Linked DNA regions of Homo sapiens. The protein of the gene in region 4 purifies or fractionates together with the protein of the main gene of each other region. This does not show direct contact. Each region holds a gene or a part of one and is shown on either strand. Other genes may lie near its edges.

Region 1 (7,028 bases), on a different chromosome or scaffold from region 4:
ACGTAAGTATAAGTCCCAGTATGTGGAAGAACTAGAAGAACCCAGGAGTTGTGATCCTAAACAACTTTTAACTGGGCCTTGTTATGATTTCCACGTGTGATACTTTACTCATTCTGAGATTAACAGTCGCACTGGTGAAACTGACAGCCGCTATATGGCCATACTAATGTAACTTATTACAAGACAGGAAGTGAGAAGAGTTGTTTGATCTAGTTGAAACCATGGGGGAATTTGGGAAAGCAGAGTAAATTTGCTAATTTGGAAGTCTGAGACTTCAGAGCTTGTTATTCTTGAAGCAGTTGTTAAAAGTCAGTGGACATCCTGATTCTCAGGTCTCCGATGTGGATGTGCATCCTCTCCGGCAGCATGATTTTTCCAGGACCAGAATGTGACAGGAGCGGCCCCGCAATAGAATTGCAGGCTCACAGGCCGGCTGCAGCACTTGGCTGTATTGCGAGGCTCCTTTCCAGCTGCTTAGTTCACATGATGCCTGGTTTATAAAACCTAGTGAAGTGTTTTATTTTTTAAAAATAAATCACTTTTGGGAAGGAAATGTGTGACTTTTTCTTCTTTTAAATTATCATTCAAAATGAGAATTTTCCTCTTAAAGAGGAAATCTTTTTGTTTTAGGAATACATTCCTGACTCTTAGGTGACCCGGGTATTGGAATCTTGTGGATAATTGACGTTATCTAATGTAATTTAGACTCTAGTAGAGTCTGTTCAGTTTTGGATGTCAAAGAAATGGAAAGATGGTGAAACAACCTGGAAACCATACCTTATCATGAACAGCGGAAGTATCTTGAAAGTGTGGCCCTGAGAAGAAAAAAACTGAGGTGAAAACTCGTAGTTTTCAGATAATTGCAGGGCTGTTATGTACACTTGCTCTGCAAAACAGAGCTAGGAGGCAAATTTCAGTTTAGCAAAAGAAAGAACTTTGGAATGATCAGAGCCATTCATGAATAGAATGGACTTTCTCAAAAGGAGTAAATTTTCCTTCATTCTATGAGTTCAAGAGGGTTGCATGACCCTCTCAGAGGTCCTGGAAAAGACATACTGACATTGCTGGAAGGGAACATTGAATAGCCACAAACATTTCTTGCTAAATAATGATCACGCATTCCATTTTGTAGTGCTTTATAGTTTACAAAGTACATTCATGAGCGTTAGTGTTTAATTAGTCATGCCTAATTCTTACAGCCCTGTACCTCCAGTGGTGTTATCCTGATTATACCATTAAAGAATCAAGATCAAAATTAATTAACATGACTTAATCTACAAATGACAAAATTATAATCCAGGTCTTCTGGTTTGAAATCCAGTGCTTTCCCACAATGCAGATAATTTAGCACCTAACGTTAGCCTTTTAAATAAAAGGACAAAGAGTTCTTGGAATGCTAGCGTCTTAAAGATAGTCCAAAGGAATTTTCAGGTGTGCTAGCTTGTCCCCTTCATTTCATTTTTTTCCCCTCAACTCTTATTCACTGCATGAATGTTAAGAAATAGCACAGCAGTAGGGGTAAAGATTTTCATGTACTGTTCTTTGTTATATCAAGTATTATTTTGTATAATTCTTTCAAATTCTTGTTGATAAGCACATAATCAAGATTCAATTTTGTATTCTGTGTATTTTATCAAGTTGAGGAAATTAACCCAAAAGATTTAAGTTCCTCTTGTTTGTAGAAGAAGCTAGTAATGACAGTAGTACCATAAGCCAGTCTAGTGCTTTCTACCAAACAGACTGCCTAAGAGAACTATGGTTATGCTGCATTCCCTCGTTGTAGAAGAGTAGCCCAGAAACACATGGACAGGCCAGATCCTTATTCTCTGTAGGCACATTCTTTTATTTATTTATTTATTTTACAGTATCTGAGTGATCAATGTGTATATTCTGTCTCCATCAGGATTATTTTGGAGTCTGTTCAGAGCCAGTGATCAAAGACAATGTAGTTGTGGTTTATGAGGTATTGGAAGAGATGCTTGACAATGGTTTTCCATTGGCTACCGAGTCGAACATTCTTAAAGAACTCATAAAGCCTCCTACCATCCTTCGAACGGTTGTCAACACCATCACAGGTACGGCAGAGGGGGAAACTGATAGATAGTGGCCATCCTACAGCCTGAGTGGCTTAGTCGAGTGTCGCACATTGTTTTGAGTGTTTGTCTTTGGGGATCTCAGGTGTCCCAGTGCTTTAATTTTGCTCTTTGTAGTTGTTTTTTTTTTTTTTTTGAGACAGAGTCTCCCTCTGTCACCCAGGCTGGAGTGCAGTGGCGTGATCTTGGCTCACTGCAACCTCCGCCTCCTGGGTTGAAGTGATTCTCCTGCCTCAGCCTCCCGAGTAGCTGGGATTACAGGCATGCACCATCACACCCAGCTAATTTTTGTATTTTTAGTAGAGATGGTGTTTCACTATGTTGGCCAGGCTGGTCTTGAACTCCTGGCCTCAGGGGATCCACCTGCCTCGGCCTCCCAAAGTGCTGGGATTACAGGTGTGAGCCACCGCGCCTGGCCCCTCTTGTAGACTGAGTACAACCTGAAATAATATTTTTGCTTTGTGGAAAATACCCTGATTTTAATGACAAAATGAAGTGTTCTTTAAAAATATTTTTTTCTGATTACAGAAGAAACACATGATTATTGTAGAAACTTCAGAAATACAGAAAAGCACAAAGAATGCAAAAATTGCTTTTAATCCCACCACACTTTTAACATGTGATATTTTATGAACATTATCCCATGATGATGTCTTCTACATGGTTCTTTTTTTTTTTTTTGAGATGGCGTCTTGCTCTGTTGCCCAGGATGGAGTGCAGTGGTGCGATCTCAACTCACTGCAACCTCCGCCTCCCAGGCTCAAGCGATTCTCCTACCTCAGCCTCCCGAGTAGCTGGGATTACAGGCACACGCCACCATGCCCAGCTAATTTTTGTATTTTTTAGGAGAGATGGGGTTTCATCATGTTGACTATGCTGGTCTCTAATGCCTGACCTCAAGTGATCCACCCACCTTGGCCTCCCAAAGTTCTGGGATTACAGGTGGGAGCCACTATGCCTGGCCTTCATTTTTAATAATTTATAGTTTTCTTCCATGTGGAGTGGACCCAAAGTTACGTACTGAATCCCTATTTATGATGTTACTGATTTTTGTTCTTTTAAATAACAAGGATTACCATTCTTACACTTGAACCTTGGTGCACATCTGGGATGATTTCTTTAAAGTAGTAGAGGTAGCAATGCTGTGTCAAGGGGTGTATACATTTTAAGTACTGTAATGTGTTGCTCTCCAGAAAAGTTAGGCCAATTTATACTTTCAGTAACAATTTCAAAGCACTGTAGTGAACCCTGTTATTGTCATTAATAATTTTTTAGAAACATTGGCAATTTGATAGTTTATTGATATCTTGTATTTACAGTCATTTTTTGTTATTAAGGAGACTAAAATCTTTTCAAGTATTTATTGACTGTTTTTCCTCTATTGTGAATTACCTTTTCATGTCCTTTGTTCATTTTTTTGTTGTTGAAATGTATTTCTTTTTTCATGTGGATTTAAAATCTCTTTTATGGGAGATCTTTATGTCTTTTGATTACTGCATTACAGATATTTTCTTACAGTCTATCACTTGTGATTTAGCTTTGTTCTGGTGGTGTTTAGCCACATTTTAAATGTTTTGATTTAATCAAATTAATCATTCTTTTCATTAAGGTTTTACATTTTGGGTCTTGTTTAATGCATAAGCAAGCATTTTCATGGAATTTTATAAACTGATTGAAAAATACATTTTAAAAGTATAAATATTGCAAGAATAGCCAGGACAGTTTTGGAAAAGAATTACAAAGGGGTTGTTGGGAGGATTTGCCCTGTCAAATATCACGACACGTTAAGTTTGTATAGTACACAAGACAAATATTCATACAGTAGACATCCTACAAGACCCAAGAGAGTTTTGAAAATAATATTTTTAAAAAGAGGAAAGATAAAATGTGTCCTACCAGATATCAGATATATTACAGGTTTAACATCCCAAATCCAAAATCCAGAATGCTCTACAATCCAAAACTTTTTGGATACTGACATGACACTCAAAGGAAATGCTCATTGGAGGATTTCAGATTTTTGAATTTGGGATGCGCAACTGGTATAATCCAGATATTCCAAAATTTAAAAAAATACAAAATTTGAAACATTTCTGGTCCTGAACATTTCAGGTAAAGATTACTCAATCTGTATGAAGTTTGGGTAGTTTTTAAAATTTGGTATTTGTCTGTAACAGACAGATAGGTCATTGGGATAAAATAGTCCAGAAACAGACCCTTGCTTTTATAGGAATTTGGTGTAGATAGATGTGGTCATTTATCAAATCAGTGGACCAGGGGCTGGTTGTTAACTATATTGTATTAGGGCAGTCAGCTTCAATATGGAAAAAATTAAGTCCCTCCACTTCACACTATACACAAAATAAAGTCTAGCTAGGTTAAGGAGTTAAACACAGACTTTATAATTATTAGACAAAAACAGGAGAATGTCTTTTTGATCTCAGAGAAGGGAAGATCTTTTTTAAAAGTCTAGTTTGTGATTTTATTTTTGGATTTAATTATTTAATCCATTTGAAAATTATCTTGGTGTGCAATAATGTTTATTTCTTCAAGAGTTTTCCTAGCACCATTGTGTAATTTATCCTTTTCCCCTGTTTTAGAATGACATTTCTATCTTGTCCTGTCATTATGGATTCTTGGTCTGTTTTTAGGCTTTCCTGCCTTTTCCCTAGACTGCTTTGATTATTATATCTTGATGATACATTTTAATACATAGTTCCTCTTTTTAAGGAAACAAATTTGGTGGTTTCTTCAATATTCTGAGTTCATTTTAAGCCTTAAAAGCTTTGTTAGTGCCTGAATCATTTACGAATATTATGAAGTGAGTTAAGCCTGTATCTCACTTTAATCTAGAAAAGGGTATCTAAGAACCACTTTTGAAAAGTTGAAATGGGCCTGACATATTGGCTCATGCCTGTATCCAATACTTTAGGAGGCTGAGGCGGGAGGATCACTCATGCACAGGAGTTCGAAATCAGCCTGGGCAACTTGATGAAACCCTGTCTTTACAAAAAATACAAAAATTAGCCAAGCATGGTGGTGCATGCCTGTGGTCCCAGCTACTCTGAAGGCTAAGGTGGGAGGATCACTTGAGCCCAGGAGGTCGAGGCTGCAGTGAGTTATGATTGTGCCTGTGAATAGCCACTGAACTCCAGCATGGGCAACATAGGAAAACCCTATCTCTTAAAAAAATTTTTTAGGTGGGCATGGTGGCTCACATCTGTAATCCCAGCACTTTGGGAGGCCGAGTTGGGTGGATCATTAGGTCAGGAGTTCAAGACCAGCCTGGCCAACATAGTGAAACCCCGTCTCTACTAAAAATACAAAAATTAGCCGGATGTGGTGGCACGCGCCTGTAGTCCCAGCTACTCGGGAGGCTGAGGCAGGAGAATTGTTTGAACCCGGAAGGCAGAGGTTGCAGTAAGCCAAGACTGCACCACTGTACTCCAGCCTGGGCGATAGAGCGAGACTCTATCTAAAAAAAATTTTGTTTAAAGACAGAAAATAAAAGGATCCAGGTAATGGAAGAAGGAAATAGAATTTAAATTAATGTATTTTATTATGTCAGTATAAAACCTTTTAAATTAAAAAAAGTTTATGCCTGTAAAGGAAAAAACAAGTGAAGGAATTGATCTACAATTCTTAAAGACAGGGAGAGATCAACTTTGTGTTCTTTTCCTAAGTTTCAGTGTTGGAACTTGGGAATGAGACAGATCATATTGATATGTACATTTTAGTACCTACCATAAATGTACCTAAGAACCTATCTCAGGCTCAAATACTGTTTTTACCCATGAAATTTTTATATCAATATGTAGATTACGAACTCTACTGAAAGCCAATACATTATTTAAGCTGCATCTGAGATACTAAGTTCAGGTTACTTTCAAAACCAAAATATGATATCTGTTTCTCAGGTAACTTTTTCTTAAACCTTTATTCTGTTTGAAAAGGCAGACCAGATGGCAACAAGGGGTTTTAAAAATAGACTAGGTTACCCCATATAGAAGTTGGGAAAAACCTCATCTTCTGTTTGAAAAATTCTTCAATTGAGTGCATGAATAGTGGGAGCATAGAAACTTCTAGGGAGGTGTTCTGTGGTTTCTAGAGTCAAAATGGTGTTAAAATACAGTAATATTAATTGCCTCAGGAAGCACGAATGTGGGTGACCAGCTTCCCACTGGGCAGCTGTCAGTGGTGCCTTGGCGACGGACTGGGGTGAAATATACCAACAATGAGGCCTATTTTGATGTGATTGAAGAGATTGATGCAATTATTGATAAATCAGGTAGGTGCTTTTAATATGTTCTCAGAAATATGAAAATAGAAAGGGACCTCTTTCATATAATGCTTGTAGTTTCAGAATTAACCCCCATTCAAGGTCATCCACTTCAATTTAGTGCCTACTTTGTGCCAGGCACTGTGCTGGGTACTGGGAATGGACGTTAATATTATGATGCAGACCAGGGTTTATTTCATATGTTTACTTGCTTTATTGGTCTTATCCTCTTGAATAAAAAAGAGAAGTAACAGGCCAGATGTAGTGACTCACGCCTGTAATCCCAGCACTTTGGAAAGCTGAGGCGGGAGGATTGCTTGAGCCCAGGAGTTTAAGACCAGCCTGAGCAACATAGTGAGACCCCATCTCCACAAAAAGTGAAAAAAATTACCTGAGCATAGTTGTGCATGCCTGTATTCCTAACTTTGTGAGGGGCTGAGGTAGGAGGATTGCTTGAGCTTGGGAAGTTGAGGTTGCAGTAAGCCCTGATCATGACACTGCACTCCAGCCTGGGCAACAGCAAGACCCTGTCTCAAAAAAAAAAAAAAAAAAAAAAAAAAAAGTAACAAATTAATTTCTTATTGATTAAATTACCTTCTCGAAAGTATTTGGCTCCCAGTTCTGATGGCAGAACTAAAGTTGTAATCACAAAATTC
Region 2 (7,028 bases), on a different chromosome or scaffold from region 4:
ATTGGAATGTAAAACAGGCAAAGAAGATCCAATGTGCATAAAATAGGAATCCCTGAAAAAGAAAAAAAATAACAGAATTAATATTTAAAATTATAATCTTAAAAAAAAACACTTTGCCAGAGATAATAAAAATTCTGAATCTACATTTTGAAAGGACTCACTGAGTACCAAGGCAAAACAATTGACCCATATCAAGTAATCCTGAAGTACCTTGCAAAAGTACTATATTTCAAAGATAAAATCTTCAGGGCCAGCATCTTTCTTAATGCAAACACAATGTAAGCATTTCCTTTAGACTGAAACAAGGCAAGAATGCCCACCATCTCCACTACTATTGAACACAACTGTAGTGATGGCACTAAACAATATAATTAGGCAAGAGAAATTAGAGTTCTAGGAACTGAAAAAGAGGAAGTAAAACATCTCTATTTGCAGATATGATTCATTCTCTAAAAAAAAAAAGAGAGAGAGATTTAGGCTGCTTGCTTCTGCCTCAGAGTTGGTGCTGTCATGGCCAGTCAGTCTCAGGGGATCCAGTAGCTGCTGCAGGTTGCTGAAAAGGGTGTCTGAGACCTGCAGTGAAAGAACCGGAGGGAGAAGCAGGCCAAAGCAGCAGTTCAAGGTGAAATTGAACAATATTGCCTGCAGAGGGAGAAAGAGTTCAAGGCCAAGGAGGCTGCTGCCCTGCGATCCCAAGGCAGCTGCAGCATTAAAGTAGAGGAGACCCAGGAGAAGAGAACCATCTGGAAGCAGTTTAGGCAGAAGAGGGGTGAAGTCTTGGCCTTTTTCTGCAATATCTGGTAGTCCATTCCTGCTAGTGGTTAGAACAATGAACACTAGTATAATTGTTTGGGCCAGTTTTAGTTACTTAATCAAAGAGGACAGAATTCAAGAACTTGTTACATGTTACTACTTGGTGTACTGATAATCATTTAAAAGTAAAGACTCTTTGTCATGCAAAAAAAAACCCAAGGAGGATGAATGAGAAAATTAACTCAAACAATAGAAGAATTCAGTAAAAAAGCAGAATATAAAATTTATCACTCAAAAAAAATCAATAGCTTTCTTACATACCAACACAACGAGTTCAAAGATATAAATAGTTGAAGCAATTTTGATTTACCATACATTAAAAAAAAGATTAAAGACAAAAACAACTCTAAACTAATATTTAACTCTAATTAAATATTTAACTCTAATTATTAGGCCCCATGCTACTGTATACCCCACAGAGGTACAGTGCTAGCAATTCTGAAGCAATAGTTTCTCTGCATTCTGAGACTCAGCAAAAATGTAAACAGATTGTGGAAATAGGAGCCCTGTTTCTTGTTTTTTTGTTTGTTTGTTTGTTTCTTTTTTTTTTTTTGTAGAGACAAGGTTTCACCATGTTGCCCAGGATGGTCTCGAACTCCTGGACTCAAGCAATCCATCCACCTTGGCCTCCCAAAGTGCTAGGATTACAGGCATGAACAATGGTGCGTGGCCAGAGCCACATTTCTTAATGTTGAATAGGCAGTTTCAAATATAAAAAGGAAGGAGGCTGGAAGGAACTCTGTGCTATACCACCAGAATTACAGGTGTCAGTAAAAACTTTGTTTTTTACTATAGACAGAAAAAGAAATATGTATTCTTAATTAAAAAAAATAAACATATAGTATATAACACTTTAGGAAAAATGAGTGCCTCACAAAGGGTAGGCCACCAAAGCCCCCAAAGAATCTACCTATGAACACTGAGCATGAAACCACTGCAGGGGGGTGAGGGAGACATTAAAAACGATACTACACACTTAATTACTATCACCAAGAATGTAACAAATTAATTCAACAGTCATTCAACAAATATTAAATACCTGTGATGAACAAGTATTCAATATTTTTTACTTTCTGGTGTATTTTGGAAACAGACATTCCAATTTTACACAGATATTGTATCTTTACATCTTTTTGAGTACTTATTTCTTATTTGGAATTTTTAATCACATCCCATGTGGTGTTAGGCACTGTGCTGAGGGTTTTATATACAATAGTTCTTTCTCTCGACACAAACAGCAAATTTATAAATTAGATATTATAAACCCTACAAATCTGGAGCCTAAAACTCATAAAGAATTGGTACATATACTATGTGGCAGACGCTCAGACATTAAGCCAGTTCTATCTGATTCAAACGCTATTGTTTTTACCTATGATATGCTGTATCCTGTCTGGGAAGACATGCACATATTATACAGAGAGAGTTCATTCCCAGGCCATCCAAAGAATTTCTCTTAGTCTATAATGTAGCAGAAATGATGGTAAAACTCATTAAAATGACAGATCTGCTTCTTGTAGATCTTACTACTCTCCATGGTACTTAGCCAATCTCTTGCACTTATAATAGAAAAGCACTAAGTATTTTTTTAAATTATTAAAATCAAGTTAACCATAATATTAATAATATTGACTTCATATCTGGCAGATAGCATGCCTGTCATACAGAAGACAAAAAGGAATCAAATTTCTTTTCTCTATCTTCATTTATAATCAATCTATATTTAGTTACCTCCTACGTTATACCAACTATGCATAGAAGAAATGCAATAATGATTTCTGGTACACTACAGACTAACAGAAATTTACTAAATGGTCTAGGAATGAAACTACAAGTATAATCTCCATGTATAAGACAATATTTTCAAAAATATATAGTAAAAAAACCATGAAAAGAATTAAAATGTTCACTAGAACATATTCACTTAATCTAAGAAAAAGCAATAAAGGAGAAATAAGGAACAAAAAAGGCATGAAACATATAAAAGCAAGTAAAATGACAGCTTAAAATCCAACTATATTAATAACAACAATAAGTGTGAATGGATTAAACATTCCAATTAAAGGCACACATTGGCAAACTGGATAAAAAGACAAGAGCCAACTATATGCTGTCTATGGAGACATACAATAGATGCAAAAATATAAACAGGCTGAAAGTAAAAGGATGGAAAAAGATATATAATGGAAACAGCAACCATAAAAAAGCTAGAATAGTAGTATTTATAACAGGCAAAACAGACATTAAAACAAAAAAATGTTACTAGAGATAAAGAGGAACATTTTACAATGACAAAAGGAAGATTAAAAAAATTATAAACATACATGCACCAAACATCCAATCTCCTAAATAGATGAAGCAAACACTAACAGAATTAAAGAGACTTCAATACCCTGTTTTCAATAATGAATAGAACAAGTAGGCATAAGATCAGCAAAGTAGAAGATTTGAACAACACTAAAAAACAGATATCTATAGAACACTCCACTCAACAACAGCAGAATACACATTCTAATCAAATGTTTATTGAACATTATCCAGGATAGATCAAATGCTAAGCCATAAACCAATAGTTACAGCTACACAGGGCTACTGCCTACTGTATTAGATAGCTGCCATGCATAGATAGTACATACTCCCTGATGATAGCATCCTAAGATGAGCTGGAATCCTTTTCCTCAGTAGTTTTGAGAAATATAAAGTGGGTACAAAAGCCCCATCTAAGATACTAGTACACTAGTAACTCACATCCCCCATAGGTCACCTCTATTCCTTGATCTTACCATGTTAACCACTTAGCCACAGGTTAAAGATTTTTTTCTCAACTTGCCTTTTTTCAGATTCTGATGAAGAAACACATAACGATCTAAAACTCCAAATGCAGTCTTTCTCATTACATGAAAATTTTTGTTCTTTAAAAATAGTCCTGTGTGCCATTAATATTTATACCATTTTGAAATCAATAAATACAACTATATAAAATATATAATGGTAAATGATACTATGTAAATAAAGTACATTTTTATGTCAAAGACGTAAAAAGACATTACTTACTGTGCTTTTATCTTTCAGAAGTTTTTCAATTACTTCAATTAACATTTCCTTCTGCTCTGGATCAAGGCTAAAAAATACAAAAATAACATATTAATTTTTCCCTTTAATTCTAGCTTTACATGATGCTCACCAATTCAAGGATGTTGAGAAATTTTTAAAGAGGGAAAGGAGAGCAAGAATTATAAGTTAGAAATAAAGAAAAACAAATAAAATGGGATGGTTTTTCTCATGAATGTGTCCTCATCTTTCCCTCTAATATTGTTCATATTAACTAAACCAGATATCAATGGTTTAGTTAAGATAGTACTGAAAGAACAAGTTCACTTCTAAAAGAGTTGGAAAACTTCAAGAAAGCGACTGTAAGTAGATAAACCACAAACTCTTTTCAACTGGGAGGAAAAAAATAACTAGATAGCAGTCATTATTTTACTATGCATACATACTTCCCAAAAACAAATATGGAGAATTTCCAAATAAGAATTTTATATCATACTAGTTCACTGATAGAGACATGCATTATAAAATCTGCCAACTAAAACTAGGAAAAATAAGAGGTAGTAATAAGCTTAAAACATTTGAGATAGAATACTAACAGACTATAAGCTCAAGGCAAGGAGAGGCAAGCATTGAGGCTGGAATATACTGGTGCCCAATGATAGAAGGACTTTTAAGCCGTTAGAGTGAGCATGGATCTTATCCCATAAGTTTCTAAGGAGAAAAGGTGAGTGAGAAGCATGATAAAACCTTGTCTGGCAGTTAACATAGGAATATGAGGTTTCACTTTCTACAAACATACACATTTATTACTAAACATTATAATTATCTGGACAAACTTTTTAATTCTTTCAAATTTCAGCTTAAGTCTTCCTTCTCAAAGCAGTATTTCACTACCAATCCCATCTCATTACATCTTTACTTTCCGGTAACAAAATATGATCATCTCTGGTCCCTGTCCTATCAAAGACATTGCTAGTGTACCTTTGTATATACATATATATCAAGTGCTAATATCTTATTCATTATAGATTGCCTTTAATTATTTGGTATGTCTTTGATCTTCTTCCTCAAATACATGATATGCTATTCATAATTAAGTGCCACATCCTCTACTGTTTTCATACATCTAAATACACATAGCACAATACTGTGAATACAACACCAGAAACAGAAGAGAGTCTCAAAAAGCTTGAGGAATAAATGATAGCTGAAAATAATACCAAATTGTTGTAGACAATTCTATTTGGACAGTAAATTTTCCACAGAGATCAGGGCATTGTATAATATTGCATAACATTTCTAAAATATCACACAGATATGGTATAGCACACTATATTTCAAATCACTACACTTTTTAAAATTACTTAATAAAATAGCTCTGGAAAAGAATTAGACAACGAAGGGAGCAGCAGGAACAAAGATGGAAGAAAGGAAAACACATATAAGTGAGTTGAGAGGATCAGACACTTAAGATTCTACCCTAAACAGGAAAAAAAAATCTCAATTTTCTAATAATACAAGCATATGTGTACATGAGATAGACTATATAAATGAGAATTCAAATTCTGATTATTCTTAAGTTATAAAATCTATAAATTATCACAGGCTCTAACAGCCTCACAAATAAAAACCTGCATAGGGTCTCTATAGCCAAAACGAAATTAAAGATGTGTAAGGAACATTTGCAGCAGGGGGAAATACCATCATACAGTCACTGGATTTACTTAGTGTAAGAGCAGCCTACCTAAAAGAGCGAATAAAACAAGCCTCTGTGGTCTATAACATTCCATGTAACATCAGAGATCTTTGGTATATTGTTAACAATGCACCTACCTGTATAATTTTTGTATTGCATGGGCTGCATTCTTCCTAACATATGGTGATAAGTCAGCAGAAGCTTCCTTAATAGCAAGCATCATGATAGGTACAATAATTGGCACTCTAATACTTGACAGAACTCTCAAAGCGCTTGCACGAATTAGTTGGTTTGGGTCCTAAAAATAGTGCAAAAATATTCACCAAAATTTCAACTTTACAATATTTTAAACATATCTTTCAGACACAGTTAATAGGTGCTTAAAGGGTGTAATATGACAATAGCAAAAGAAAGCTACTTAATTTAAAATGAACAATTAGTATATAGGAATGGGAAAAAAAGACAGACATAAATGTTTACTTCTTTAATAATGTTTTAAAGAAAAGTAATAGTTATAATTCTAGTTGGTCATTTATTACTAAATATGCTGGGTTTTTATACTTTCATAATAATAAAATGCTGCAGGTCATCAATTTCATGTTTAAAAATGTCTTATAACCCCTTTTGCGTACTTTCAACAACTAGTATAATGATAAACAGCTCTTTGAAGCATGAAAATAATTATATTGAATATAAACAAACATACAGAAGCTGTAACATATACAGCAAGGTTTCAGTTGGTTGTATAAATTATTTTCTAAGTGTACTGAGTAGGCACTATAGGAGGCTTTTAACTCTTTCAAGACACTACTGTGCTATTTAGTGGATTATCGCTCCACTTCTTTAACTGACACACTTTCAACTCTGCAGAAACCTTGTAGCTATTTGCCTACTCACTCCATTATTTACCTTCAGAGCTCGCTGAAAAGTGCTTATGGACAGGAGTGCAAGATCCTGCTGTTCTTCAGCATATCGAACCAGGTAAACATATACCAACTTCTTGATCTGTTAAAAAAAAATCATTTATTCATAACCAGAGTGAAAATTTAAAACTCAGTATTTGCTATACCAAAATCCATGCTCAATTCTTCTCAAGTAAATAACTGAATCTGGTCACATGTTAGATTGTAAAATAAAAATAATATTTTGTGGGATAATAAGTACAACAGGAAAAGCTTTTAAAGTAAGCATTTTAATAGTCCAGTTCACAATAGCAATAGCCTATCAAAGTGTCCCTTCCTCTTGAAGGGAATAAAAAATCCCTGAGCAGATCTCATATAAGAATATTAACTAAATTGTAAAAATATTTTCAAAATGAGGGATAAAAATAAAAGAAAGAAGCCAGGCATGGCGTACATGCTTGTAGTCCCAGCTACACAGGAGGCTGAGGCAGGAGGATCACTTGAGCCCAGGAGTTAGAGGCTATCCTGGGCAACACAGAGAGACCCTACCTCTTTAAAAAATAATA
Region 3 (7,028 bases), on a different chromosome or scaffold from region 4:
ATAATTTTAATAATAACTTCATGTTTTTAGTCAAATTTTAAGATGTGTCATATCTATAATATAGTGGGTGATTTAAAAATAGATTTATGTATTTATGTTTATCTTAAAGTTTAAAATGTTACCATCTACCTCTGTATCTTTGATAGAGTTAGCAGATAGCTTATGTGGTTTTTTGCAGTTTAAAAAATGTTTTTTGTATTAAGTTTTACCTTGATGAAGGTATGCTGTTATGCATGGTAGCATGAACTAAGATGAATTTGACTTGGGTCTGTCCTGATGAAATGTGCAGTCTAATAGGAAAGGTAAGCATTTGCATAAGTAAAAAAGAAGATTATAATTATGAGAGACATGCAGATAAAGTGCTAAGAAATTTCAAAAAAGAGGTTACTGTCAGCTGAGGCATATCAGCTATGAATCAAGCTGGAAGTTTAAAAATCAAGATATGTGAAAGAAAACCTAAATAATTGACTTTGAGGTCCATTTATTTATTTTTCCCTCATAAAAAGAAGTCTAAAGGTGGGCAGTCCAGGGCTTGTTCAACTCCACAGTCATCAGAAGTCCAGGCTTCTGCCGTTTCACTCCTTCTTCCTCATGCACACAGGGTGACTCCTGGAGCACTAGCCATCACGTCCACATTCAACAGGAAGGAGAAGGGAAATGGTCAGGATACAAATCATCACATGTTGCCCTCTTCACAGTGTCTTATGAGTTGGGTAATATTAGTTTGATTATTATATAGTTGAGGAAAGTGAGTAAAGAAGGTAAAGTAAATTACCCAGTGTTATCAGATGATAAGAGGTAGAGTCAAGATTTGGATGCAGTTAGTTTCACTCTGAAAGCCATGCTTTTAACCTCTCTGATAACTCTATAGAGAAAAGACTTGAGAAAACAGCACGCCATTTAGTAAAGCCAGAAAAGACAGAAGTAGGAACTCTTTGGATATGTACTAGAAACAGTGATTCACTTTGGCTGGGTCACAGGATATATGAAACAGAAAGAAAGTAGGATTGATGCAGTGTCATGATGGGCTTTAAATCTATCCATTTGTTTCTTTATTCAGCCAATGTTGTATTTTCATTAGAGACACTGAGATGAAAGACACCTATTCTGTCCTTAAGGACATCACAGTTTAGTAGGGAGACAGACCATTGCCATACAGTGTTGTAAATGCTATAATAGAAGTACATGCAAAAAGTTGGTGCCACCATCTTTTGAGGGCAGCAGCACAGATGTCCCAGAGGAGGCAAATTCTCGGCGGGGTCTTTAAGGAGGATTAGGACTTAACCACCTCCAAGTTGGGAGGGCAGGGAGCCTAGACGGGGAACATGAACAAAGGCACAGCAATGTGAAAGAACATGCCACAATAAAGGACCCACTCATGGTACCCACGTCTTGACTGGAGATAAGGCTGGAGCGGTGGGTGAGTTAAGGTCACAAACTGTAGACGAGGGGCTTTTACATTTTTTACCATTGACAGAGTGACACTTTAATCAGCCAGCATCAAGTGTAGCAATATTGGGCAAGGTATGATGAATATTTATTTGGATTATGATAGTGACAGAAGAGAAGAAAATGAGGGGATAAATGTGAGAGCTATTAAAATGACATAGCATTGGGTCTGGGATCAGAGAGAAGAATGACATGCTAAGCCATTCTTACATTGCTATAAAGAAATACCTGAGACTGGATAACATATAAAGAAAAGAGATGTGATTGATTGACGGTTCTGCATGCTGTACACGGAGCATGGTGCCAGCATTTGCCTCTAGTGAAGGCCTCAGGAAGCTTCCACTCATGATAGAAAGCGAAGTGGAAGCAGGAGCATCGTATGACGAGAACAGGAGCAAGTTAGCGGGCACGGTGGTGCCACACACTTTTAGACAACCAGATCTCATGAAAACTTGCTCACTATTGCAAGGACAGCACCAAGCTGTTCATGAGGGATCCACCCCCATGACCCAAACACCTCCCACTGGGCCCCACCTCCAACATTGGGGATCACATTGCAATATGAAATTTGGAGGGGACACAGATCCAAACTATGTCAAATGAGTACCACTGGCCTTGGGTAACAGGGAGGATGACGATGCCATTAATAGAAGGAATGAAACACTGGAGGAGGAGCTGGTATAAGAGGCAGTTATGTTGAGTTTGAGCCATGTTAAGTTTGAAACAACATGCAGTGGTATCCAGAATAGCCTAGGAGAGAGGATGTGAGTGAGTCATCCACATATGTCAGATGATAGTTGAACCTGAAGCCATTAAACTGGCAAAGAGGAGGTTACAGAGAAAAGGAGAATCAGGAAATCTTAAGGCAGTGAGGCACATGAGAAATAATGGGTATAAAATATGACTGAGGAAACACAAATGGGAGTTGCTATGGTAGACTGCCTTTTCAAGGAGCTGCAGCAAAGTGAAGGCCATAGACGGTAGAACAGGAAAGTAGGCTTAAACAAGTTTGATCACGCATCATTGAAATTAGTCACTTACTGGTTTTTTGCCCCATTTCAGACTAATAGCTCCAGTTTTTTTACCACCTCAGCCTCCCAAGTAGCTGGGACTACAGGCATGTGCCACTATATCAGGCTAATTTTTTAAATTTTTTTGTAGAGATGGAGTCTCACTGTATTGCCCAGACTGGTCTCAAACTCCTGAGCTCAAGCAATCCTTCCACCTCAGCTTCCCAAAGTGCTAGGATTGTAGTAGGTGTGAGTCATCTCACCTAGCCTTTTGCATTTGTTCTAATGGGTGTGATTAAAAAGACATCACAGATACTAACTAGTTAGCTTATTATACCATAGAATAAATGATCTGATTTCTCTCTACATTTGTATATGTCTTACCTATAGTCACACTATGTTGTGTTATCAAAGCAATTTTACTATATCAAACCATAAATATATTTGCACGTAAGAAATAAGGAATTCACTCAAATACATCAGAGAAATTAAAAGTTGATGTGCAGTTTATTTCTGTATGAAATATGCACTCATGGAGCCATAATTTGCACAAAAGACCAGCCAATTCAGAATTGAATGGCATAATTTTGCTGTTTCAAATACCGCAAATGGCATAACATAACATTTGGATTTATGCATAATTCTTAAAGTTTATTGACACTTTTTATTTCTTTAATTAATTTAGTAAACTTTAGATCCTATAATAAATGATACTAAAGACCTGTGCATTTCACAGCATATCTATATATTAGAATGTTTAATCTGTCTATAAACATGTTCTTTATATGTGGTTCTAAGTAGCCCGTAATTCATTTTAAGCATCATGACACGATAAACATATAATATGTATGATACGTACTGTCCGTTTTTTATTCTTTGTGATGCAGAATATCTTTAATTTGTCCAAACCTATTTTATTATCTTGGTATTTTCCAAGATATTTGTAGTATGACTTCACAAAGTTTTTAAAATAATGAAGATAGGCAATAGGTTCATTTGAGAAGATCTTAATATACAGGTAATTTGTTTTCAGTGAACTCTGGCCTCCTTCAGCCATCTCATACCTCATCTTTCACTCTTAGGTATTTTAAGTAGAACAGACTGAAGTGTCATTGAATTTAACCTGAGTTTTAACCAATTTTCTTTGACTTGAAATTTTAAAATACAGGGTATATTCAGTTCTCGAGGAGAAAAGATCCTTATGGCAGATGCTGATGGAGCCACAAAGTTTCCAGATGTTGAGAAATTAGAAAAGGGGCTAAATGATCTACAGCCTTGGCCTGTGAGTATAAGAATGTAGTTTAAATAACATTCAGTCAAGAATGCAGGAGAGCTAAAGTAAAGTTAAAGGAGAGTTTACCTATCAGTTTAAAAACTGAGTGTTTTTGGTATGAAATCCTTATACAAATGGTACAGCCCCATAGAGGAACTGATCATTTTGTTACAAATATTGTCTGATTTTATGAGATTCACTTGACAATTACTTATTTAATATTGTGACCATTTCTCTCTCTTGGTTTCTGATTGCTTCTACCCAAGTTTTAATATTTATTGTGCATATTCAATTAAGACTTTTATTTAAAAGTATAGCCTGAATTCCAGGTAAAGATGTGAAATGAAGCTGGATCACAGAATCCAGTTTTTGATGAAACAAACAAAATCACAAGCAGCAATCACTCAAAAAGGATTATTTGAAACTTCACACCATAACTTCAAAAAGTGGAGGTTGAGGAAAGAAATAAAATCCTAGTACCATTCCTACCTTTTAAAAGCCATTTAGAGAAATAAGATGAATTTGGCAAACGCTCAGGATCCTGAGCGTTTGCCAAATACTTCCCAATCTGGAAAAAATGAATAAGAGAATGAAAAAGCACCCTTGGACAACATCAAACAATATACCTACCATCACACAATATGTCAAACAATATACCTACCACCACACAATACGTCAGAATTTCAGCAGAAGCAAGAAAACTTGCTGAGGTCTGCCATTTTTCAGGACTGTAAGCTGAATTGGGGACACAGATCCATGTGACTAGATCCTTTCCTGGATGGAGTGTACCTTGTTCAAGACACTCGACAAAATCTCACAAGACCAGGGAACCCAAGTAACCAACAAAGCCACGTAGAGCTCCAGGGGAGGGTCCCTCCTCCCTGCCTTCCCACCGTCTACCCTCAAGTCCAGATATAATACTCAGGCCTTGAAATTCTAGTTTAGAGGGGGAAGAGATACAGGTACATCAAGGAGAATGTTCATTTACTGTAGGAGAGCTGCCCATGTTAATCATGACAAAATAAAAGAAAGAAATGGCAATCACACCAACATATAATTACACAAAAAAGAATTAAAGTTGCATACAAAAGATTTAAGACAGTGTAATCCAAGGAAAAGGACAAAATTACATGCAAGTATTCTGGCTAAAGAAATAAAACAATGAAAATAAGAATTTAGCAACACAGGTCTTCAAAGGTAAGATGACAAAACAACAAAATGGTATTAAAAGAAAAATTACAGGCCAGGTTTACATGCCTGTAATTCCAGCACTGTGGGAGGCCAGGGCAGGAAGATCACTTGAGGCCAGGAGTTTGAGCCCAGCCTGGGCAACATAACAAGACCCCATCTCTGTAAAAATAAGAGAAAAATTAACAGGGTGTGGTGGTGTATGCGTCTAGTCCCAGCTACTTAGGAGGCTGAGGCAGGAGGATCATTTGAGCCCAGCAGTTTGAGGTTATAGTGAGCTGTGATTGCCCCACCGCACTCCAGCCTCAGTGACAAAGCAAGAGCCTGTCTCAAAAAAAAAAAAAAAATTACAGAACTAAGGAAACAAATTGAGACCAAAATAAGATGAATATGTAAAACTATCTATGAATGAAATAGACCTAGTTTAGAACTGAATATTATTACATATTTATTAAGATCCTGTTATAGCAAAAACCAAACCAAACAACACAAAAAGGTAAACATATAAGGCCCCCCCAAATTTAATAATAATTACAGAAAAACTCACTGCATATCCTTCTAGAAATAAATATTTATTTAATTCCACACTTTGTGAAGTATATTTCTCCCCCACCATCATCCATCCCCATCCCTTGTATTTCTAGCTGTTTTTTTTGTTTTTTTCTAGGTGTTTTTTGTTTTTTTAAGATTCTAAGTGAATCAACTAATATAATTCTTAAGAGAATTAGCTGTAAAGATATTCATACCATTGCTCTTCAGACAAGTAGCACTAGCTGCATGTGTCTATTTAAATTTAAATAAAATGAAAATTTAGTTCCTCAGTTTCATTGGCCACATTTAAATTACTTGTTGCTAAAAGCTACCTTTTTTTTTTTTAAAGGAGATAAGGTCTTACTGTGTTGCCCAGGCTGGACTCAAACTCCATCCTCCTGCCTCAGCTTCCTGAATAGCTGGGACTACAGAAGTGAGCCACCATGCCCCGCTTGTTGTATAGCATTTCCATCATCACAAAAAGTTCTCTGGCTTATAACATGATATGAATTTATTGTTGGATATGTTGTAGTTCACTCTTACTAAAAAAGTATTTCATGTCCAACATCTTAGTAAATCATGATAGGCTAAAAGGAAAATCTCATTCATAAAGTTACTTGGTGTGATTTCCTGATTTTCTCCAGAGGACCCCAAGAGAAACTTGATAAATATTTCCCTTGCATTATCTTTCTAGAGGGAGTCACTCAGTGGGAGGGAGGGCATAAGGCATCAGATTTTTAGCAGCTGATTTTGTCATTCAGCAGTAGGGCAAAGATAATTTAAATGATTTTGCTGATGTTAGGGAGTGAACCAAACAATAAAACAAAAATCTGAACTTTATTCTTATAAATCTAGTTCCTTTATACTACTCTGTAAAGAAAAGGAGTTCTGATGCCATATTTTTTCCTTATCATAATCCCATTTACTACACTGTTACTAGAAATGTTAAGTTTTAAAGAATTAAAGCATGTGATTATCATTAAGCTATTAATTCGTAGCCTTGGTTTTACAGCACCTTAAAGTATCCCTAATTATTTAAGTGTCCCAGCTCAATTGAATTAATTTGAATTAAATTTAGTAAGTTTTATTAATATGCATCATGTAATACTCTTTGCAGGAGGTGGAAAGGAGGCAAATAAATGATAGGTGGTTAAAGTTACAAAATTCATAGTTTTTGGATCCACCCAGTGAAAAATATGGTTCTGACAAAGCTTATAAACAGCCAGTCATTGCTCTCAGAAAACTTACATTCTGAAGTTGACATGCATAGAGAAATTAGAAGAAATCTTCTTACTTATGTAATTCAGGTGTTAGAGAACTTTTTCTGTAAAGGACCATATAGTAAATATTTCAGCTTTAAAGCCAGTCAGCCTCTGTGGCAGCTGCTCAACGCTCTATTGTAGCATGAAAGTAGACATAGATAAAATACATCCTTTATTTACACAAATAAGCAGCAGATCAGATTTGGGCTACAGGCTATAGTTTGCTGACTCTTAAATCTAATTTAATCATTTATCCAATATTGGAAAGTTTTTACAACTACCTAGTGATCTTTCAGCCTCTACTGCATAGCTCTA
Region 4 (7,028 bases):
AAAAATACAAAAATTAGCTGGGCATAGTGGCACACACCTGTAATCCCAGCTGCTCGGGAGGCTGAGGCAGGAGAATCACTTGAACCCGGGAGGTGGAGGTTGCAGTGAGCCAAGATCACACCACTGCACTCCAGCCTTGGTGACAGAGTGAGTGACAGTCCATCTCAGAAAAAAAAAAAAAAGAAGAAGAAGTGATGGGGTCAGGGGTTGGAGGACGTCATGCAGAGTGGTCCATTGATGGGACAGAGCCAGGGCAGCTCCTAGCCCATCTACTTACCACCTCAAGGAAAGATGGTCACCTTTTCCAGAAAGGCTGTTTCCTCACCCCTCAGACAGGCAGGCCTACTGAAACTGGCCAAAGATGGACTTATAAAATATAATTTCTTGGGTGCAGGATGGATGGCTTAGAGGGGAAAAGGCTCCCTGGGCTTGGATGTCCTCCTCTCATGGTGGGAAGGAACATTCCTCTTTCTGCAGGATGGAAAGAGAAGTTTTTCCTCCATCCTCACACACTGGCTTCCGCTGTCCAAAGGAGTGTGACTGCCCCCTCCACCCCTGCCTGGGGTGGGGCTGAGACAGATGCTTTGCCAAGGGTGGCTCGGCTCCTATCCTCCCAGCTGGCTCTATTGCAGCCTGCCAGTCTATCCTTCACTCTCATAAGGATCCCTCTCACCTATGGGGCCCTGGTACTAGTGGTCAGTAGCCCCAGTTACCATGGAGTCTGAATCATCTCTAATCCCTAAGGTTCTCCAGATAGACAGTGGGCTGAGTGGTTTCCTCCCAGGGAGGCTTTCCAGAAAGCTGTGGGTGTGGAAGAACCGTAAAAAAGAATCTCTTAAGGAGAAAGAGAAAACCCATGAACCTATGAGATGAGAGGGATTCAGGAGCTCTGGCTGGGAAAGTAAAATTGAATAATAAGACCTAGCCTGCCACTCAGTGTCTGAATTTTGCCTGTGCAGGCCCCATAACAACAAAGAAAATAGGGCAGCATGCCCACTCTCATCCTCCACCGGCAAATTCCAGCTAGAAGGTATTGGTTAAAGACCCTTCCAGATGCAAGGGTCAAGAAAGGAAGGATAAAGACAGACAGGCAGAGCCCAGGAGCCCTGAAGCAGGCCTGGCAGCTGCTTTACAAACAGAACAGCTTCTCTGCTTTCAAATGCTCTTCTTAAAGTTTGGCCTTCTAGGCTACCCTGGTTGCACTGGGATAGGGGTGGGGGTTGTGAACTCCTTGGTATTTATTTTCTGTTGCCTCGATTATTCTGACATGTACTGAGTGACTGCCCTTCTCTCATACTGAGATCTTTCAGGTGGAGTGCTCAATGACTGGTCTCGCATCACTATGAACCCCAAGGTGTTTAAGCTACATCCCCGCAGCGGGGAGCTGGAGGTACTGGTGGACGGCACCTACTTCATCTATAGTCAGGTAGAAGTGAGTACGGTCTTAGGCCTAACTCTTCTTATATCCAGAATGCAGATCCGGTGCAGGCCACATAGGGGCACTGTGGAGCCAGCCAAGACCATCCAATGGCTAACTTCCTGCTTTGGGTGAGGGGGTGGGGGGACCGCACTGGGAGGGAGTTGAAAGGAGGAAAGAGAGAGGGGGCCAGCTTCTTTTGTTTTGTTTTGTTTTGTTTTTCCTTAGCCAAATATTATTGAAAAACTGTGAAAAAGACCCCTCCCACACCCTGCCATCTGATTCCCTCCTGCAGGGCCTCAGGCCCCTGTTTACCCTCTGAGCTGTTTGGCTGCACTGCCAAACTTGAACTTGGTCTCAGTACATTCTTTGAAAGTCAGTTCCAGGGTTACTGAGAACCCTTTCCCTCAACACTGCTGGCTCGGACGTTGTAATGAATAGTGCTCCTGCAGACTTTCTTTCCACCTCAAAAAGATTTCTGACTGTCTTTCCTTCCTCTTTCTCCCATTTGTTTCCCTATCTTTCTATTCCTCTATTCTTGCCTCCTTCCTGCTGTCATTCTCCCAGCCCTTTCTCCCTCTGCTTTTGTCCTCTTCCTGCCCTGGGCCCGCTCCCCAAGTCCACCAGTGTCCATCTACTTCCGTTCCCCCATTGTTTGCCTCCATGGGAGTGGCTCCTTGGAGATAAAGGAAGATGAGCCATGAGGTTGGGATTTTTGTGGGATGGGCAGCAAGCAGGCAGGTGGACAGAAGGACTATGGAGCCAACAGATGGGTGTCACATGAGAGCGGCCAGAGAAGGTGGGCTAACAAGCATCTGCTAGGCACACTGAGCACCCCGCTGTAGCTTGGGTCCTGACCCGTATATGGCACCCAAATATGCTGTTCCCACCTGAAGAGCTGATAGAGGGAGTGACCTTTCATAAAATGATTTACGGTGATATCTGAGAGTCCCAACACCCATGGGGCACATGGGCATAACCCTGATGTCCTGTGAGCCAAGTTCCACGTGGTGGGGGTGGGCGGCAGATCAAAACTTGGTGTGAGGTATGATGGATAAGGGTAGTGAAGGATGGAAAAATTAATTTTCTGAGCCTAGGAGAGAATTGAGAGTGGCCCATGCAGGCTGGGAAAATCCCCATGACATTAGGCCACTGAGCATAAGTTAGTGCTTCCTTCTGGCCACAAAGTTAGGGGCCTGGGCTTTTCCAAATTCTTTGTCTTGTTTGTGGTAGCTAGCTCTCGATCTCTCTGGACCTGTTTCCTCAATCATCAGATGGGAGGCCCAAGGGGCACTGTGAATCAGTGAGGGGAGTCCAGGCCCAGGGGAGGGGTGGTGCAAGCTGAATAAGCTTCTGTTAAGGAGCTCAAGAAATCACAAGTTGTTACATGCCCTCTCTGGGGAATCAGTGACTTCTAAGTTTCTCCACAAATAGTCCGTGGGGCTCAAGAATGGAAGTCAGTTTGTGTCCACGGCACTGTGTACACACCTGCTACGTGCAGAGCACTCTGCTTCATGTCAGGGCTGGGGCAGGGGTGGGCGGGGGAACAGGGGCACGGTGAAGCTGCAAATAGGGCATGGTTCTTAGCCTTACAGAGTTTGCGACAAGTGTGCTGTTGTAAGAAAAGTTTGCTCAGCCAGCTGAGCCCCATGGACTAGGGGAAGAACAATGCCTGTCACCTGTCCTTTCCTGTTGGCCAGCTAGCACGCCTTCACATGGCACTGCCCCATCCATGGGGTATACTAACAGCTCATCTGAGAAGATTCTGTCAATTCACCACAGGGAGGGCCCCCCACCCTCTCTTTCCTCTCTTCCCCAATCCCTTCTTGTTGCCTCTCACTCAGGTATACTACATCAACTTCACTGACTTTGCCAGCTATGAGGTGGTGGTGGATGAGAAGCCCTTCCTGCAGTGCACACGCAGCATCGAGACGGGCAAGACCAACTACAACACTTGCTATACCGCAGGCGTCTGCCTCCTCAAGGCCCGGCAGAAGATCGCCGTCAAGATGGTGCACGCTGACATCTCCATCAACATGAGCAAGCACACCACGTTCTTTGGGGCCATCAGGCTGGGTGAAGCCCCTGCATCCTAGATTCCCCCCATTTTGCCTCTGTCCGTGCCCCTTCCCTGGGTTTGGGAGCCAGGACTCCCAGAACCTCTAAGTGCTGCTGTGGAGTGAGGTGTATTGGTGTTGCAGCCGCAGAGAAATGCCCCAGTGTTATTTATTCCCCAGTGACTCCAGGGTGACAAGGCCTGCTTGACTTTCCAGAATGACCTTGAGTTAACAGGACAGTTGATGGAGCCCCAGGGTTTACATGAAGCAGAACCTTCTTTGGTTCCATGTTGACTGACTTATGGCATGACTCTTCAACCCCGAGGTCCCTGTTGTCAGATCTATTGTTTGTTGCACTAAAATGAGGATCCAGGGCAGCAGGCCAGAGAAAGCAAAGGTGCACTCCAGACTCTGGGGGTGGACATCTGACCCCAAGGGGGCTGCTGCTCCTCTCTTGGGTAGGGTAGTGGCTGGGGTGGAGTGGGAAGGGAGCATTGCAGCCTAAGAAGAAGGCCAGAGAGGGAAAAGGCAGGTGCTTTTGGCAGAGACCATAAGAGAAACCTGCCAAGGAGCATCCTTGGCAGTGGGAATGTTCTTTCTGCTCTATACTGTGGCCTGCAGGAGGGTTGGAGTGCTCTTCCCACTCCAGCTGACAGCCACACCGTGGCAGCTTGCTGGGCTTTGGGAAGTTTGCTGTGCTTTGGAACAATCACAGGGAATGGCCACAAACCTGCCCGCCTAAGACCCTGAATCCGTACTTGGGTCACATGACTCTCATTTTATTTACAGCTGTGCTCCACACTCAGAAAATTCCCTGGGGTCACCTTCTAGTTGCCCCCATTCCCAGCCTGACTAGAACTCCTGTCTTCTTTCTCCATGGAGCCTACCTCTGTCTGAGACAGGTGCCTAACCTGGGACCTGTGGTCATGTGAGTCTGGGATATTCTTTAGCTTACCTGGGCACAAACAGAATTTTCCATTTATTAAGCAGTACAAATGTTTTTCATCCATTCCTAATCAAATTCTGTCTGGGGACGAAGGGTTGGACGGGATGACCTCCAGAAGTCCCTTCAATTTCTAGTACCTGTGACTCTTAGCCCTCACCACAGCCTTCTAAATTCCCAAATCCTAGACTGCTCCTGGGCATTAGCAAGGCAGAGCCTTTTTACCTGGCCTAGAAAGGGCAAGGGGTGAGGATAGGACAGAGGGATTTTGTTCAAGTTTGCTGCAACCCAAGTGGACGTTAGGCCAGGCCTTATCTGAAAGGCCAGCAGCTGATGCTGTACTAACCCAGTCTTTCTTCACTCTGGCTTCAAAAAGCCACAGCAGAGCATTGTCACCGCAGGTGCTCATGCTGCTCCCCTAAAGCCAGGCTCAGGAGAAGCCAGTGTCTAGGCACTGAGCAGGGATCTGCCCCCTAGTTCAGGTCCAAATTCACCTTCCCCTAAACCCCAAGCTTCCCAACAGATCATATGGTAGGACCCTCGAGAGCCTTACTTCAAAGTGCCTGGGCTCAGCCTGGTTTCTGGGTGCTAGATCCAGCCCAAACCTGGGAAGGCCAGCCTTGTACAGTCTGCTCCTCTTGTTCCTGAAATGTGTTTCCTTTTCAGGAGATGGGGAATAATTTCCTTCAGGCAGCTGAAATTCACCAAGAACAGCGGGTACTTATTTCTCAGCTGTGCCTTCCCTTTCTAAGCAACCACACTGCTTGGCCCTTCAAGGGTCAGGGTGAGACGTGATGGGCTAGGCCTCCGTTGTCTGGTTGCTAATGACAGCCTTGCAACCCAAGGTGAGGTGAACTCCAGGCATGTGTCTGGCCCTAACTCCTATAAAGTGCCTCGGACAGTCCGCAGTTGTAGCAGAAACCAACAAGAACCACTCCTTCATGTTTGGAAAATAATTTCTCTTGTATTATCTCCTTTGAAGAAGGCAAGGCTGATAATATGACAAACATCATTGTTTAGATGAGGCTCAGAGAGGTAGCACTCTCAGAGTGTTTTGACCAGTTTAAGCCGCAGACCTGGAGCTTCAGCCAGGTCTGACTCCAAAGCTGTTCCATTACACCACAGCATTGTGTGGAATTTGAGGTCTAGAGAGAACCAATAAAAGTGGTAATTGGGAACTGAAATCCTTGAGAGTTCCGGGGAGAAACCCAGAGATGCCTGATTTCATTCCTCGATGGTAATACCCGTCCTCTCGGCTGCCAGGGGCTCTGTGGCAAAAAGAGTCAGACATTTCTTTGGAAAACAGCGAACAGCCTTAGAGCTCTTGTGTTCAGAAGAATCTTCCTGGCACAATGTTGGAGCAGCAGGCCTCTGGGACCCACAGAACTTGTGGCCTTTATGTTCTTTCACCCATCCTAGGAACCAGCCAACCATCATGTGTAGAGCCCCTACTGTGGGCAAAGTCCTCCTTTCATTACCCTACAGACAGCTTACAGGAGCCAGCCTGCTTCCCACAACTACTAGTGTGACTCCTTATCTCTTTCCACCATACCTTAGAGACTTTGATACTACCAGGGTCTCTCAGGGATGGAGGGAAGACCTGAAAGAGAGGACTGGTTCTGAGGCCAGAAAGGTGTGAGGAGAGAGGAGGAAAAGTCTTCCTAATTGTGCCCCTAAAGAGCATCCTGATACCATTCTATTCTCCAGACATGGAGGGGATGATAAAGGAAATAGGATCTCCACTGGACCCTTGATTCATTCTGAACCCTCCAAAGGAACTCTAGAGGGCGAGGGATGATGAGGGAAGCAATAGGTAGCTGGGGAGCCCTATTGCTGCTAAGTCATTGGCAAAGTGACAAAGCAATTTACTGATGAGAGAATGTGGAAATAGATGTGCAGTTTGGAATTATGTTGGTGTGAATTTGCCAGAGGACCAATGCTTGCATGGAGAATGGGACGAGGACATTTGTGGGCAAGCAGATGACAGAGGTTTGAAGGAGAATGGCATGGCAGGAGTCTCTGCCAGTTACTTGGGCTTCAACAGCCAAGCTGGCACAAAAGACAGCTGGCGGAGGCTGCTCGGCTACTGGTTACCTGGAGAAGTAGTATTTGCCTATTTCCCCCTTCATCCATCCTGAGCCAAATTTCTTTTGCTGAACAGGAAAGAGCTAGGAACCCTGGAGGTAAACAAAGACTTTGATCCATGTATGAGTGTATGTGTTTATGTAACTTCCTGTGGATGCAAATAGATTCAGAGAAATTTAGAGCTAAAAAGGCCCTTAGAGGGAATCTAGCCCAACCTACATTCCACCCTGTTACTTATGTAGAAACTGAGGCCCAGAGAGGGAAGATGACCTGCCCCAAGTGGTGAGCAAGCACCAACCTCCAGACTCAGCAGAGTGAGGGGGTAAAGCAGTTCCTGTCCCACATGGCCATCTTCTTTCTTCCACCCACAAACTCCAGGCTGGAAGTACTTGGCCCCCTTCAGGAGCCTGGCCAGGCAGGGAGAGAGTAGCTGCAGCCTTCATCAGAACTCTTCCTCCTCCCAAGGCATTCTCCCAGCTCTAGCCTCTGGACTGGAAAGCACAAGACTGGCCCAGTGCCAGCAAGT

What was found.
Region 1: the proteins of EDA (region 4) and AP3M2 purify together in Homo sapiens (affinity purification with mass spectrometry; 3 studies listed by BioGRID and IntAct, with this or other methods). This does not show direct contact.
Region 2: the proteins of EDA (region 4) and AP3B1 purify together in Homo sapiens (affinity purification with mass spectrometry; 4 studies listed by BioGRID and IntAct, with this or other methods). This does not show direct contact.
Region 3: the proteins of EDA (region 4) and ALG5 purify together in Homo sapiens (affinity purification with mass spectrometry; 4 studies listed by BioGRID and IntAct, with this or other methods). This does not show direct contact.

The regions. Positions count from the first base shown.
Region 1 is NC_000008.11:42,156,038-42,163,065, forward strand, and holds part of AP3M2 (AP-3 complex subunit mu-2), read left to right. Parts: intron 1-16; exon of another isoform or gene 17-835; intron 836-1,903; coding exon 1,904-2,075; intron 2,076-6,243; coding exon 6,244-6,381; intron 6,382-7,028. UniProt on the Homo sapiens protein: Part of the AP-3 complex, an adaptor-related complex which is not clathrin-associated. The complex is associated with the Golgi region as well as more peripheral structures.
Region 2 is NC_000005.10:78,221,675-78,228,702, forward strand, and holds part of AP3B1 (AP-3 complex subunit beta-1), read right to left. Parts: intron 6,566-7,028; coding exon 6,470-6,565; intron 5,859-6,469; coding exon 5,698-5,858; intron 3,935-5,697; coding exon 3,868-3,934; intron 1-3,867. UniProt on the Homo sapiens protein: Subunit of non-clathrin- and clathrin-associated adaptor protein complex 3 (AP-3) that plays a role in protein sorting in the late-Golgi/trans-Golgi network (TGN) and/or endosomes.
Region 3 is NC_000013.11:36,982,340-36,989,367, reverse strand, and holds part of ALG5 (dolichyl-phosphate beta-glucosyltransferase), read left to right. Parts: intron 1-3,627; coding exon 3,628-3,741; intron 3,742-7,028. UniProt on the Homo sapiens protein: Dolichyl-phosphate beta-glucosyltransferase that operates in the biosynthetic pathway of dolichol-linked oligosaccharides, the glycan precursors employed in protein asparagine (N)-glycosylation.
Region 4 is NC_000023.11:70,032,097-70,039,124, forward strand, and holds part of EDA (ectodysplasin-A), read left to right. Parts: intron 1-1,301; coding exon 1,302-1,432; intron 1,433-1,984; coding exon of another isoform or gene 1,985-2,104; exon of another isoform or gene 2,105-2,950; intron 2,951-3,261; coding exon 3,262-3,513; 3' UTR 3,514-7,028. UniProt on the Homo sapiens protein: Cytokine which is involved in epithelial-mesenchymal signaling during morphogenesis of ectodermal organs. Functions as a ligand activating the DEATH-domain containing receptors EDAR and EDA2R. May also play a role in cell adhesion.